2 linked regions of the Homo sapiens genome follow. The gene in region 1 interacts genetically with each later gene. Each region holds a gene or a part of one and is shown in the gene's direction. Other genes may lie near its edges.

Region 1 (3,652 bases):
ACATTTAAAGGAAAAGCCTTCCTTACCCTGTGCTAAAAGTAAAATTAACACAACTTTGGGGGGGAATATTCTGAATATAAAGACTAATCTGCTTTATAGTTATGAGCCTGTCCAGGATTTTTTTCCCCCACCTTTGAATGGGAAACCTAGTTAGAGGATAAGTTAGAGAATAAGAGCCCCATAGAAATTTGGTTGTTTTTAACCATTATATATTTTGTATTGTGTGAAAAGTGTTTATGTGTTTTATTATTTTTGTCATGCTTTCTCTGTTCTGCATGCTTCAGATGTGTTTCCTAACTTGATTGAGAACTATTCAGGAGCAATTGCTTCTTGCTTAAGAATGAGTTAGCATCTAAAGTGAACTTGTTAGGTGGAAACTGTGAATAGCTAAGATTACCTTTGAGAATCCCTTAAAAGGACATCAAGTTGGCATAACATGCTGTCTCTCAGCATGTCCTACACAGCCATGTTTTTCATCCTGACTTGGAATGTATCACAGTTTCTTTAGATGAACTCCCAGTGAAAAAGTTGCTCTGTGTTTGGTCACCACCTTGTATGTTTTTTAAAAAAAGAGAAAAAGTGTTAAAAACTAGAATCATGCAATGCAGCAAGATGCTCACATTTTGAGATGCATGTGGTGATTGAAACAGACTAAAAGAGCAAGATTCTTGTTGCCCATCCCCCATTCACTCTGGAGCAGATATTCAATACCTGAAATGGTAAGCAGAATCTCTAGTAATTATTGTTTTTGTCTGTCTCTGCCTTCCTTTTTTTGGCCTACAGTGTTTGGTAGATTCAAGAAAGTTAAATGTGCCTAGACTCTGCTGTATGAACCAATTGATGGTAATAAGGTTTAATACAAGTAAGAAATTAAATTATCTTTAGGATTTATCATGAAAAAATCACCCCCTTTTGAAATCGCATAATGGAGGATTATAAATATGTGTCGACGATGGTTATTTTCTGAGTTCTGATCTTGCTAATGTTAACAATATCACAACTCAATTTTTAAAAAAGGCACAATAAAATATAAATATTCTTATTCACTGTTTAATATTTATTCACTGTTCATTTTTCAAGGTGTGGTTTGTGGGTACAAGATTCTATTTTAAGTACTGAAATCTTAAATTCTAATTTTACTCCATTTACAACCTACTCCTTCATGTCAGTGTTTTTATCCCTTAATCTGCAGTATATCACTTTGACTATTTTTGTCCCTTTAATAATTCCCTAGTATCCATAATTGCCAGTAACTAAGTGCTGACTTTAAACTTATTAGGAAATATAGTTTGGCTGTTTTGGAGATCTTTTCATATTTTTATAACGAAAAAATACAGTAACTATCTTTTCCTAAAGTTGCTATCAAGCAGTCAGACCATCTTTAGAGTTTAGAAACACAGGTTTGGTTTAAGAAGAATAAACATTACAATTTTAAATGTAGTACTTCAGAATAGTGTGTACTGGAATTCTAGCTCACTGATTATTGGTTAATATCATCTTGCAAAAGGAAATATGCTACCATCAGTTTAGTTTTCTCCTTATTTGGAATGTAAAAAAGGACAGTTACATTTTTAAGACTTTCTTTTTACCTGTACGTATGTTTAATTAACAATTTAAAGATTTGTTCAGATAGCCACAGCCAGTACTTCTGACGAACAGAAGTAGGCTTTTAGGGTTTCAATCCTTTAGAAATTATATTTGTTCTGGGGCATTAAATATTTATTATTAACAGAATTTTTCATTTATATATTTGTCATTTAGTGGACCATATTAAATGTGGAGTAAAAATTAGTAAGGTAAAAATTGATATGTAGGCCAGTTTTTCTTAATCCTTATTCACTGTGATCTTACCAGAAATTTTAACTATGAATGTTATGATTCATCTTTAAGACCTCCTAGTTGAACATCTTTTCCTTTCATCTAGGCCTAAAGTTAAGCACTTAATAACCCTTATCATTTAGGCTTCATTGTCCCACTGCCTCTGTGTTACAAAACCTTAACCCTGGTTCACACCAACCTTTGTTCCTATGCCAGATTATTGCCACCTTAAATTGTTTGCAGTATGAGCTGAGCATTCATTGCTACCTGAAAAATATTTCTTCTATTATTGTGGGTGGTAAGTTCAGACTTTTGCCTCTGTGTTAGAAAAAATCCCACCTCATCACCTGTTTGAACAGTCTTAGCATATCTCAAATAAAATCAGAGTCATTTTGGTGGAACTCCCTTTTACCATGTTTTTCTCTCCTCATTCACCCTCTGCTTAACCATGTTATAACCATATGCACTTCCACTCATCCTTCCTTCCGTACTCCTTCATCTATCCAAGTCTCTCTAGACCTATGCTTTTGTTGTCATTCTCGCCTGCATTCTCAGAGACCCTACTCCATCAGTCACAGTCTTTCTCCTGATTGCTCAACTTTTCCTTCTCTCTTTGCTCTCCCCTGATTATGATAAAATCATGATCAACTCTATCCTTTATTTTCAGAAACTCTTAAACCACATTATTTCAGTATTTCCTACTTTTTCTCCTTTTCTTTCTCATTTTCTTGAAAGAATAGCATGTACCCATTTGTAGGGTTTTTTGTTTGTTTGTTTGTTTTTTCCCTATTTTCTCCCTTTGCGTTTATCCTTCAACTCACTGAGATTTAGCTTCTACCATTTTTGGAAACTAGGTGTGCTAGTCATCTAGGACCGCAGAGTGGCTGAGTACAGTGGACTGTATCATGTCATTTGAAACTTTCTTTTCTGTTGTCATATCACTTTTCCATATGACAACTGATTTGTGGATCACTTTCTTAGAACTCTGTTCTTAACTCTCTACTGTCTACTTCCAAGAGGCCTTTAGGGGTGGAGTGCATGAATGGGCATTCATGCAGCTTTTGAAATGGAGTACAAAATGTTGTTTATATGTATGTATGTCTGTTTTCTTAGGAAGAGGGTCCATGGGCTTATGTATATTTGACTTAGACAATATTATGTTCATCCATGGTTTTAACTATGATGAAGTGATAACATGAAATTCTGGATTTCCAGCCCAGACCTCTGATAGGAAATCCAAAACCATATGCCCCACTTGATAGCCCATAATTAAAGTTTTCCAAAACAGAATTATCATTCCTCTTCCTGATGCCCTCTATACATATAGACTCCTCCACTCTTCAACATTTCCTAAGCCAGAAATTTGAGTGTCCTGCTCCTTTCTCCTTCTTTAAATCCTATTCCACATTGATTCTGTCTTCCAAGTATACTGATCTCCTAAATCCATCCTTTTATGTGTTTCCCTGGCTTAATTCTATCCTCTCTGTCTTTCAGTTGGTTTATTGAAATAACTTCCCAACTGGTTTGCCTGTGTCCTGTTTGACCCCACCTTGACAGTTCACCACATGTAAATCTGAGTAATTTTTCTGTAACATGTTAGTATTTTTTCAGTGATTCTGATTATCAGAATGAAAAGTGCCTAATTTGAGACATGTTGTTTGGTCTCTGCTTACATTTTTAGGTCTTATTTCATCAGTTTCCAAATGCACATTCTGTAGGGGTTTTAAAAGTAATTAAGTCTGTTATTTTGGCTTTCCCCCTCATAGTTTACCTCTTGTAATAACCTTGTCTAGGTCCTTTAAGTCTCAGCTCAAGCTCAGCTTCCTTCTTTATA
Region 2 (3,752 bases), on another chromosome or scaffold:
AAATTAATATTTGTGGCTGGCCCATCTTAAGTGACCCCGATAAGTCACACTCTTGTATAATCCTTTCTCCTTGAGTACAGATAAAACCCGTGACTTACTTTAACCAATAATATATGGCAAAGGTGATGGCTGTCACTCCCTAATTTAGGTTATCATCTACATCCATTTCCATATCTATGTCCATGTCCATATCCATGGCTGTATCTATATCTGTGTGACTCCTTTCTTGTGCTCAGTAGAGAGATTCTCCTTGCTAGCTTTGAAGGAGTATGCTGCCATGTTGCGAGAGAGCCTTTAGTAAGGCCCATGTGGTAAGGAACTGTGGGTGGCTGCTAGGACCTGATGGCCACTTCCAGTTCAGAGCCAGTAAGAAGCCAGGGCCCCTAGTCAGACAGCCACAAGGAACTGAATGAGCTGACAGGAGTTTGGAATCAGATTCTTCCCTAGTTGAGCCTCCAGATGAGAATTGCAGTTTGGCTGACATCCACTTGTAGCCTTGTGAGAGCATGAGCACAGGACTCAGCTAACCTGTTCCTGACCTCCTTGCCCATGGAATGTGAGGCAATACATATGTGTTGCTTTAAGCCACTAAGACACTAAGACTGTGATAATTTGTTGTAAAGCAATTTTAAAAACCTGAATACCATGTGGTTAGGAAAAGTGCTACACTATTTATTAGTCAAAAGTCTTCAATTACTTTTCATTGTCTTTGGAATAAAGACCAAAAAGCTTATATGGCCACTAAAAGCCTCTTGTTATCTACATTATTCTATTTTTCCATGTTACTTTTTTATTACCTGGTCTAGGCCGAATGTGATGAAGTCTCTATCAACCCACAAGAGAGCTCCAGGGCATAGACTGCCTGTTAAAGGAGCCGCTCACGGAGCAGAAACAGCTAAGCCCTGATACCACATTTTCCCACTTCACCTACTTCACGTCCCTTGTATTTCTTCCAAATTTAACTTTCTATTTATTGCATATATTCATGTTTTACATTTCAATGCTGGTGACAAAGTTGTTTTCCTTTCCCAATTATTATTCCAAATCTGACCAATTTTTCTAGACTTCCATATGACCTAATGTGATTATCCTTCCTTACCCCAACCTAGAAATAATTCATCTCTTTTCTTCCTTGCTCCTTATTTGGCATTTCTCATCCTGCACTATACTATAGCTTATCTATCTTGGGGGACATTTGTCATTCTTTTTAGCTTTCCAGCATCCAACATACTTTCCAGTGTTTAGGGAATTCCCTACCTCTTGCATCTCAGTGGGAAGCAGTGTGATGGGGTCAGAAGTGTAAACTTGCGCAACATCCTGCTCCCAAGAAAGACGTGCACTTGCTACTTCATCCTTCGCTCCATCTTGGTCCTCCCAACTGGAGAGAGGACAGCCTAGACGAGACTTCCCACAACCAAGATGGCGGCCGTGCACTCCTTGCCCACAGCTGGCCTTTTCTCCACTTTCGGTCTCCATCGTAACGCGGCTGGCTCTCTCGGCGCCGGCTTAGGCCTTGCAAGTAGGGAAATGGTGAGTCTTTCCCGCCCCCTCATTTTTGCGACAGTTGCAGCGAAAGTCACGGCAGTTGGGGCTGGTGTCAGCTGATTTACTGCAGTGGCGGCGGCGGCGGCACCGGCACCTTGCAGTATCACTGGGGAGACGGCGGCTGTATAGCGCTTGCCGCCCCACGGATTATCCCAGCAGGATCTACGCACCCCGCATCCTCCGTAGTTCCGCCCTATCCTTGTCCTCCTTGGCTGGGGCGCCCACCGGCGGTCTGATAGGCTACATCGCGGCATGAGATGAAGCTGTGACAGGTAAGGGGGCTTTCAAGCTTCTCCATGGGAAACCACAGGGCGGGATGTTCCTGCACCGTGGAGGTCAGGGGTCAGGGGTCAAAGGTCACAAACCCGCTCTAGCCGGGGGCGGTGCTAGCTGTCAGATCGCTGCGGCTGCAAGCCTGCAGGTCGGGCCCAAAAGTAGGCGCCGTTACCAAGAGCGTGGGGGCCAGCCGGGGGTCTTTGTGGCTCCCTTGCCTGGTGAGTGATATTTGCTACTTGTGACAGTTGCTTTGGTCTTGAGGTGGGACTGCCTGGTTCCCAGGTGCAATCTAAACGGGATCAGGTGATTGGTGATGATCGTTGGTGGTTATTGACAGCAATTTTGGGCGATGTGCTTGCTTTTGGGGTTCATATAGTCTTTCCTTTCCTGTTGGTACTATTTTTGCCCATGCCCAAGGTACTGACACCACTGTTAGAATTTCATTTTTGAGATGCCATCTGCCAGTTCTTATCCCTTTGCCCTAGTACTTGTCTGAGCGGATGCCAGTCACTCCCATTCACTTAGTGATGGGTCCCAGCGTTCTGAAGCTATGTTTGAAGTCAGCACTACCCTAACTTTGATTCAAAAATTGCTGTTTTATGTTTTTTACCCACTTAGTATGTCACTTTTTGAGGCAGAATTTGCTGGGTTAGATAGTCTGAAACTAGGGAACCTACCGTCGCATGACAGGCTGCATTGATATTGTTGATGCTGCTGAATTTAGGGTTCGGTCAGTGGCAGCTATAGCTTCCTCTCACTGTAATATTTGCCATGAGACAAAAAAAGGCAAACTGACTCTTTCAGGTGTTTATGTCTTAGGATTTTATGGGCAAGGTTGCAGGAATTGCCTGTTGTATGAAAGAAATTAACTGAGTTTTTGACATTTTGTAAAACAAAAATTTTAGTTTGACTCTGCTTCTTGCTTTATAAACAAACTCGTGGCTGTATGAAGGTCAGCTTAAAAGTGAACATAATGTGTTGAAATGCCCTCATTATTACAAAGAATAAAAAACTGTCTAGTTCCATCCAGAACAATACATATTAGTTATTATAAATTGGGAAAACGAACCACTATAAATATAATTAATGCTTTATTATTAATGTCAATTAGGGATTATGGTAGAAAATTCATTTATTTTACTGCCAATCCTTATTTTAAGAGTGTTTCAGAGAAATACTTTAAGAGAAAAATGAGAGTATGCCCTTTATTTTTTCTTATTGCCACCTGTAACTAAATTTTAAAAGATCTCGGTGACTGGGTGAATCAAAGGGACTGGGCTTGGCTTGGTTTGAATATCCCTGTAAGAATTTAACTTAAATTTTAGGGGTAGTGACCCTTGTATCTTACAGTTTCCTTTTATCTTTGATATATGTTCCGTTTTGAAGTTAAAGGAAGTTGGGTGGTTTCTCCATGTAACACACTTAGCATCGAAAATCTTCAAAGTAGTGAGCTTGTTTTGTGTTTTCTTCGTGAGAGGGGTAGGATGACATTTAGCTTTAGTGGTGTGATGTTTATTAGATGTATGAGTCCTTAAAGTTCATTTTGGACCTCAGGTGCAGAGGATGGAGTTAATCTTACTCAATTCAATGGGCTGTTCAAGGCATCTCCCCTGCCTGCATTTTTCGTTCTTCTTTTTTTTTTTTAGATGGAGTTTCGCTCTTATTGCCCAGGCTGGAGTGCAGTGGCGTGATCTCAGCTCACTGCAACCTCCCCATCCCGGGCTCAAGCGATTCTCCTGCCTCAGCCTCCTGACTAGCTTGGGATTACAGACTGTGCCACCATGCCTGGCTAATTTTTGTATTTTTAGTACACATGGGGTTTCACCATGTTGGTCAGGCTGGTCTCGAACTCCTGACCTCAGGTGATCCACCAGCCTTGGCCTCCCAAAGTGCTGGGATTACAGGTGTGAGCCACCACATCCAGTCTCATT

Evidence for each region.
Region 2: changes in ASCC3 (region 1) and WDR7 together harm fitness more than expected from each alone (negative genetic interaction), as found in Homo sapiens cells (one large-scale study listed by BioGRID).

What each region holds. Positions count from the first base shown.
Region 1 is NC_000006.12:100,874,808-100,878,459, reverse strand, and holds part of ASCC3 (activating signal cointegrator 1 complex subunit 3), read left to right. Parts: intron 1-3,652. UniProt on the Homo sapiens protein: ATPase involved both in DNA repair and rescue of stalled ribosomes. 3'-5' DNA helicase involved in repair of alkylated DNA: promotes DNA unwinding to generate single-stranded substrate needed for ALKBH3, enabling ALKBH3 to process alkylated N3-methylcytosine (3mC) within double-stranded regions.
Region 2 is NC_000018.10:56,649,760-56,653,511, forward strand, and holds the start of WDR7 (WD repeat-containing protein 7), read left to right. Parts: upstream 1-1,599; 5' UTR 1,600-1,817; intron 1,818-1,937; exon of another isoform or gene 1,938-2,039; intron 2,040-3,752.